Linked DNA regions of Homo sapiens: region 2 is linked to region 1. Evidence: fine-mapped expression QTL. Tissue or cell type: whole blood. Region 1 holds a variant in brackets; the other region holds the start of a gene. All regions are shown on one strand. Distances are from middle to middle.

The links. PIP is the estimated chance that this variant, and not a neighbour inherited with it, causes the effect.
Region 2: it holds the start of SESTD1, and the variant in region 1 is fine-mapped to the expression of SESTD1 in whole blood (TOPMed, PIP 0.99).

What each region holds. Positions count from the first base shown.
Region 1 is chr2:179,061,274-179,063,961 of GRCh38, reverse strand. No RefSeq gene overlaps it. Among named protein-coding and RNA genes, the nearest start is that of CCDC141, 12 kb to the right of the region's middle. The variant C/T (reference allele first, on the strand shown) is at 1,346.
Region 2 is chr2:179,263,716-179,266,403 of GRCh38, reverse strand. It overlaps SESTD1 (SEC14 and spectrin domain containing 1), which reads left to right and starts at 1,572. Exons shown (of 18, transcript NM_178123.5): 1 at 1,572-1,905. RefSeq lists silencers at 1,471-2,090, 2,101-2,170, 2,279-2,442.

The DNA.
Region 1 (2,688 bases):
CAAATAAACTAGAAAATCTAGAAGAAATGGATAAATTCCTTGACACATACACCCTCCCAAGACTAAACCAGGAAGAAGTTGACTCTCTGAACAGACCAATAACAGACTTTGACATTGTGGCAATAATCAGTAGCTTACCAACAAACAGAGTCCAGGACCAGATGGATTCACAGCGAAATTCTACCAGAGGTACAAGGAGGAACTGGTACCATTCCTTCTGAAACTATTCCAATCAATAGAAAAAGAGGGAATCCTCCCTAACTCATTTTATGAGGCCAGCATCATCCTGATACCAAAGGCTGGCAGTGACACAACCAAAAAAGAGAATTTTAGACCAATATCCTTGATGAACATTGATGCAAAAATCCTCAATAAAATACTGGCAAACCGAATCCAGCAGCACATCAAAAAGCTTATCCACCATGATCAAGTGGGCTTCATCCCTTGGATGCAAGGCTGGTTCAATATACGCAAATGAATAAATGTAATCCAGCATATAAACAGAACCAAAGACAAAAACCACGATTATCTCAATAGATGCAGAAAAGCCTTTGACAAAATTCAACAACGCTTCATGCTAAAAACTCTCAATAAATTAGGTATTAATGGGACGTATCTCAAAATAATAAGAGCTATCTATGACAAACCCACAGCCAATATCATACTGAATGGGCAAAAACTGGAAGCATTCCCTTTGAAAACTGGCACAAGACAGGGATGCCCTCTCTCACCACTCCTATTCAACATAGTGTTGGAAGTCCTGGCCAGGGCAACCAGGCAGGAAAAGGAAATAAAGGGTATTCAGTTAGGAAAAGAGGAAGTCAAATTGTCCCTGTTTGCAGATGACATGATTGTATATCTAGAAAACCCCATTGTCTCAGCCCAAAATCTCCTTAAGGTGATAAGCAACTTCAGCAAAGTCTCAGGATACAAAATCAATGTACAAAAATCACAAGCATTCTTATACACCAATAACAAACAGAGAGCCAAATCATGAGTGAACTCCCATTCACAATTGCTTCAAAGAGAATAAAGTATCTAGGAATCCAACTTACAAGGGATGTGAAGGACCTCTTCAAGGAGAACTACAAACCACTGCTCAATGAAATAAAAGAGGATACAAACAAATGGAAGAACATTCCATGCTCATGGGTAGGAAGAATCAATATCGTGAAAATGGCCATACTGCCCAAGGTAATTTATAGATTCAATGCCATCCCCATCAAGCTACTAATGACTTTCTTCACAGAATTGGAAAAAACTACTTTAAAGTTCATATGGAACCAAAAAAGAGCCCGCATCAGCAAGTCAATCCTAAGCCAAAAGAACAACACTGGAGGCATCA[C/T]GCTACCTGACTTCAAACTATACTACAAGTCTACAGTAACCAAAACAGCATGGTACTGGTACCAAAACAGAGATATAGATCAATGGAACAGAACAGAGCCCTCAGAAATAACACCGTGTATCTACAACTATCTGATCTTTGACAAACCTGACAAAAACAAGCAATGGGGAAAGGATTCACTATTTAATAAATGGTGCTGGGAAAACTGGCTAGCCATATGTAGAAAGCTGAAACTGGATCCCTTCCTTATACCTTATACAAAAATTAATTCAAGATGGATTAAAGACTTAAATGTTAGACCTAAAACCATAAAAACCCTAGAAGAAAACCTAGGCTTTACCATTCAGGACATAGGCATGGGCAAGGACTTCATGTCTAAAACACCAAAAGCAATGGCAACAAAAGCCAAAATTGACAAATGGGATCTAATTAAACTAAAGAGCTTCTGCACAGCAAAAGAAACTACCATCAGAGTGAACAGGCAACCTACAAAATGGGAGAAAATTTTCGCAACCTACTCATCTGACAAAGGGCTAATATCCAGAATCTACAATGAACTCAAACAAATTTACAAGAAAAAAACAAACAACCCCATCAAAAAGTGGGCGAAGGACATGAACAGACACTTCTCAAAAGAAGACATTTATGCAGCCAAAAAACACATGAAAAAATGCTCACCATCACTGGCCATCAGAGAAATGCAAGTCAAAACCACAATGAGATACCATCTCACACCAGTTAGAATGGCAATCATTAAAAAGTCAGGAAACAACAGGTGCTGGAGAGGATGTGGAGAAATAGGAACACTTTTACACTGTTGGTGGGACTGTAAACTAGTTCAACCATTGTGGAAGTCAGTGTGGAGATTCCTCAGGGATCTAGAACTAGAAATACCATTTGACCCAGCCATCCCATTACTGGATATATACCCAAAGGATTATAAATCATGCTGCTATAAAGACACATGCACAGGTATGTTTATTGCAGCTCTATTCACAATAGCAAAGACTTGGAACCAACCCAAATGTCCAACAATGATAGACTGGATTAAGAAAATGTGGCACATATACACCATGGAATACTATGCAGCAATAAAAAATGATGAGTTCATGTCCTTTGTAGGGACATGTATGGAATTGGAAATCATCATTCTCAGTAAACTATCGCAAGAACAAAAAACCAAACACCGTATATTCTCACTCATAGGTGGGAATTGAACAGTGAGATCACATGGACACAGGAAGGGGAACATCACACTCTGGGGACTGTTGTGGGCTGCGGGGAGCGGGGAGGGATAGCATTAGGAGATATACCTAATGCTAAATGACGAGTTAATGGGTGCA
Region 2 (2,688 bases), 200 kb before region 1:
AACAGAATACCACGGAAGGCTAAAAAAGGCTGGGACTGTGGACTTCCCTGTATTTTCTTTTCGTTGAGTAGATGCTCAACATCTATTTGTTGGGATGGAAAATTATTTCAACGCTTCAGCAAACAGTTAAAGAGAACCTTTTTTGTGCTGAGCACTGTGCTATGTTCTGGGGAGCAAAAAAAATGAACTAGACAAAATCCCTGTCCTTTTAAGGAACACACAGTCTAGGAAGAAAAGGCCACCAAGCAAAGCAACAGGAAAAAAGCAAGTATTAAAGATTATCATAGGGAATACTGTAGATAGACGATTTTATGAAAGCAGAGAGAAAAAGAGTATTTAATTCATTGTAAATGTGTGGGGTAAGGATACAGATGTGGTGAAAGGAGATGATGTCAGGGAAGATTCCAAGGAGGAAGGGATGCATTATCTTCATTATCTTGAAGGACAATAGGAGTTCAACTGGTTAAATGAGGGATGGATTTCAGGTGGGGGAAAACTACAAGGGCACAAAGACAAAGTCTGTTGAATTTGTGTGATACGTAGATATATTAGGAGTTGAAGCTGGAGCCAAGGAGGTCAATAGATCAGATTTTAAATGGCTTTGTAAACCATGGTAATGAGTTTGAACCTGATTCAACCAGGTGGAGAGACTTTGAATGATTTTAAAGAGGGACGTTTCATGCTTAGCTCTGTCTTTTTGGAGCATTCTCTCTGGCAGTTATATGGAACTGAAGCAGCAGTGAAGTTAAAGGCTTGACCTAGAGTGGCAAAGAGGTGGAAGTCATGGAGACAGACTGATATTCACAGAATTAAGAGGAAGAATTAATCCACGGGATTTTAAGTCAGAAAACTTTAGTGGAGAGAAATTTGGTTGCTTAGTTGTTGGAATAGGAAGATTTTATCAACGGAATTAGGTGATACTGAAGTGAGTGGCTGAGTGAATAATATGGAAGTCTTGAAATTGGGACCACACAGCTGCTCTGATCTGGTGTGAATTTGCTGATGACTCTTTTGAACTGAATTCAGGAAATGACATACAAATGATTTGCGCAATAAAATGAAAACAAGGACTCTTAAGTCAGTATACTTGGAGAAAAATAACTAGGTTGGTAAAAATGGGGAAGTAGCCATTATCAGGGAGCCCCATTGTGGATTAATTTTGGACTGTCCAGTGGAAAGATCCTCAAAGCAAAACAAATGCCCTGAATCCAGCCCTTCCTCACCGCAACCCTTTCCCTTTCATCTGCCTTCATCCTTCAGCCACACCACCGCTTGGCAGTGAGTACTTGGGAGCAGCTCTTGGAGACTTTGTACTCGAACCTTCGAACTCCAGCATGAGGCCAGAGGAAATAAATGACCTGCCAGGGTGTCAAGTAACGGACCCTCTCTTAAGCCCAGACTTCTGACTCCAGATCTAGGTACCCTTCCACTCTCCAAGACTGCCTCCCGCCTGGGGAGCCTGGGCCTCGGCTAGGGGTGGGGACGGCAGGGTCCGTCCGGAGCGCCAGAGTCCCACTCGCGCCCAGCCCTCAGCCCCAGGCCCGGTTGGACGCCCCGCCCCGCCCCGCCTCCTTCCTCCTTCCCGCGCCGGGCGGGTTGCTGTACCGCCGTCACCCGGGCGCGCGCGGGGTCGCGCGGACGCGGCTCGGGCCGCGGGTGCCGAGAGGTCGCCGGGCCACCCGCACCCCCGCTCCCCGCCTGACGCACGGAGGGGCCGGGACGCGATTTGCCGCGAGTGACTGGAGCCGCAGCCGTCGCCGCTGCTGCCGCCGCCGCCCGGGCCCGCTCCGCCCCCAGCCCGCCTTCCTCCCGCCGCGCCCTCCGCCTCCGCCCGCACCTCGCTAGCGTTCCCCTGTCTTCCCCAACGCCCCGGAGCCGCCGGCCGCTAGCGTCAGCGCCAGCCAGGTGAGTGTGGCCGCCGCTCGGCCCGGGCGGGAGAAGCGCGCAGGCCCCGCGGCCGGGTGGCCGGCTTGGGCCGGTGCAGTCGGCGGCGGCGGCGGTAGCGGGCCCGGCTTTCTTCCCCTGCGCGGGCCGCGGGGCGGAGGGGCTACGCAGTGAAGGAGGGGCGCCCCCGCCCCGCCACCGCCTCTGCTCCCAACGCCCCGACCGCCCCCACCGCCTTGCCGCCACAGACAAAGCGCCGGAGGTGGGAGCCCTGCGGGCCGCCTTTGCCTCCGCGCCGTCTGCCGGGTGCGGCCGCGGCCCGCAGAGACCGGGCCGCGCGCTTTTCCGTTCCTGAGCGCCCTTGTTCATTTCTGGGTGAAAGGGACCCGAATTGTGCAACAGGTTTGGGCGTTAGTCCTTATTTTCCAGCGGGTCTCTTTTGCCAGCGTGCAGGAACCAGATGTGGCTCCCTGCTCTCGGGCGAGTCCCGCGTCCAGCGCCCGCGACTGGCTCCTTTGTGTGACCGGTGACCGGCCCTGTCGGGTGGGTGGAGGACACGGGCTCGAGGCCCCAGGGCTGCGCCGAGGCTCCTGGACGCCTCCTCAGGTCGCGGGGCTTGGCTTCCACGGGCCTGCCAGAGGTTAACATCCCTCCAGCGTTTGGGAGAGTCACAAAGGGGAGGAGAGAGAGGGTTGGCCAGGGTCTGTGGTTGTGTTTATTTTTCTATTTTAGGTAGACTCATATTAGAAAAGAGCCGCAGTCTGACCAGCTCTTGAGGGTACGGGTGGGATTTCACCCTGGGAT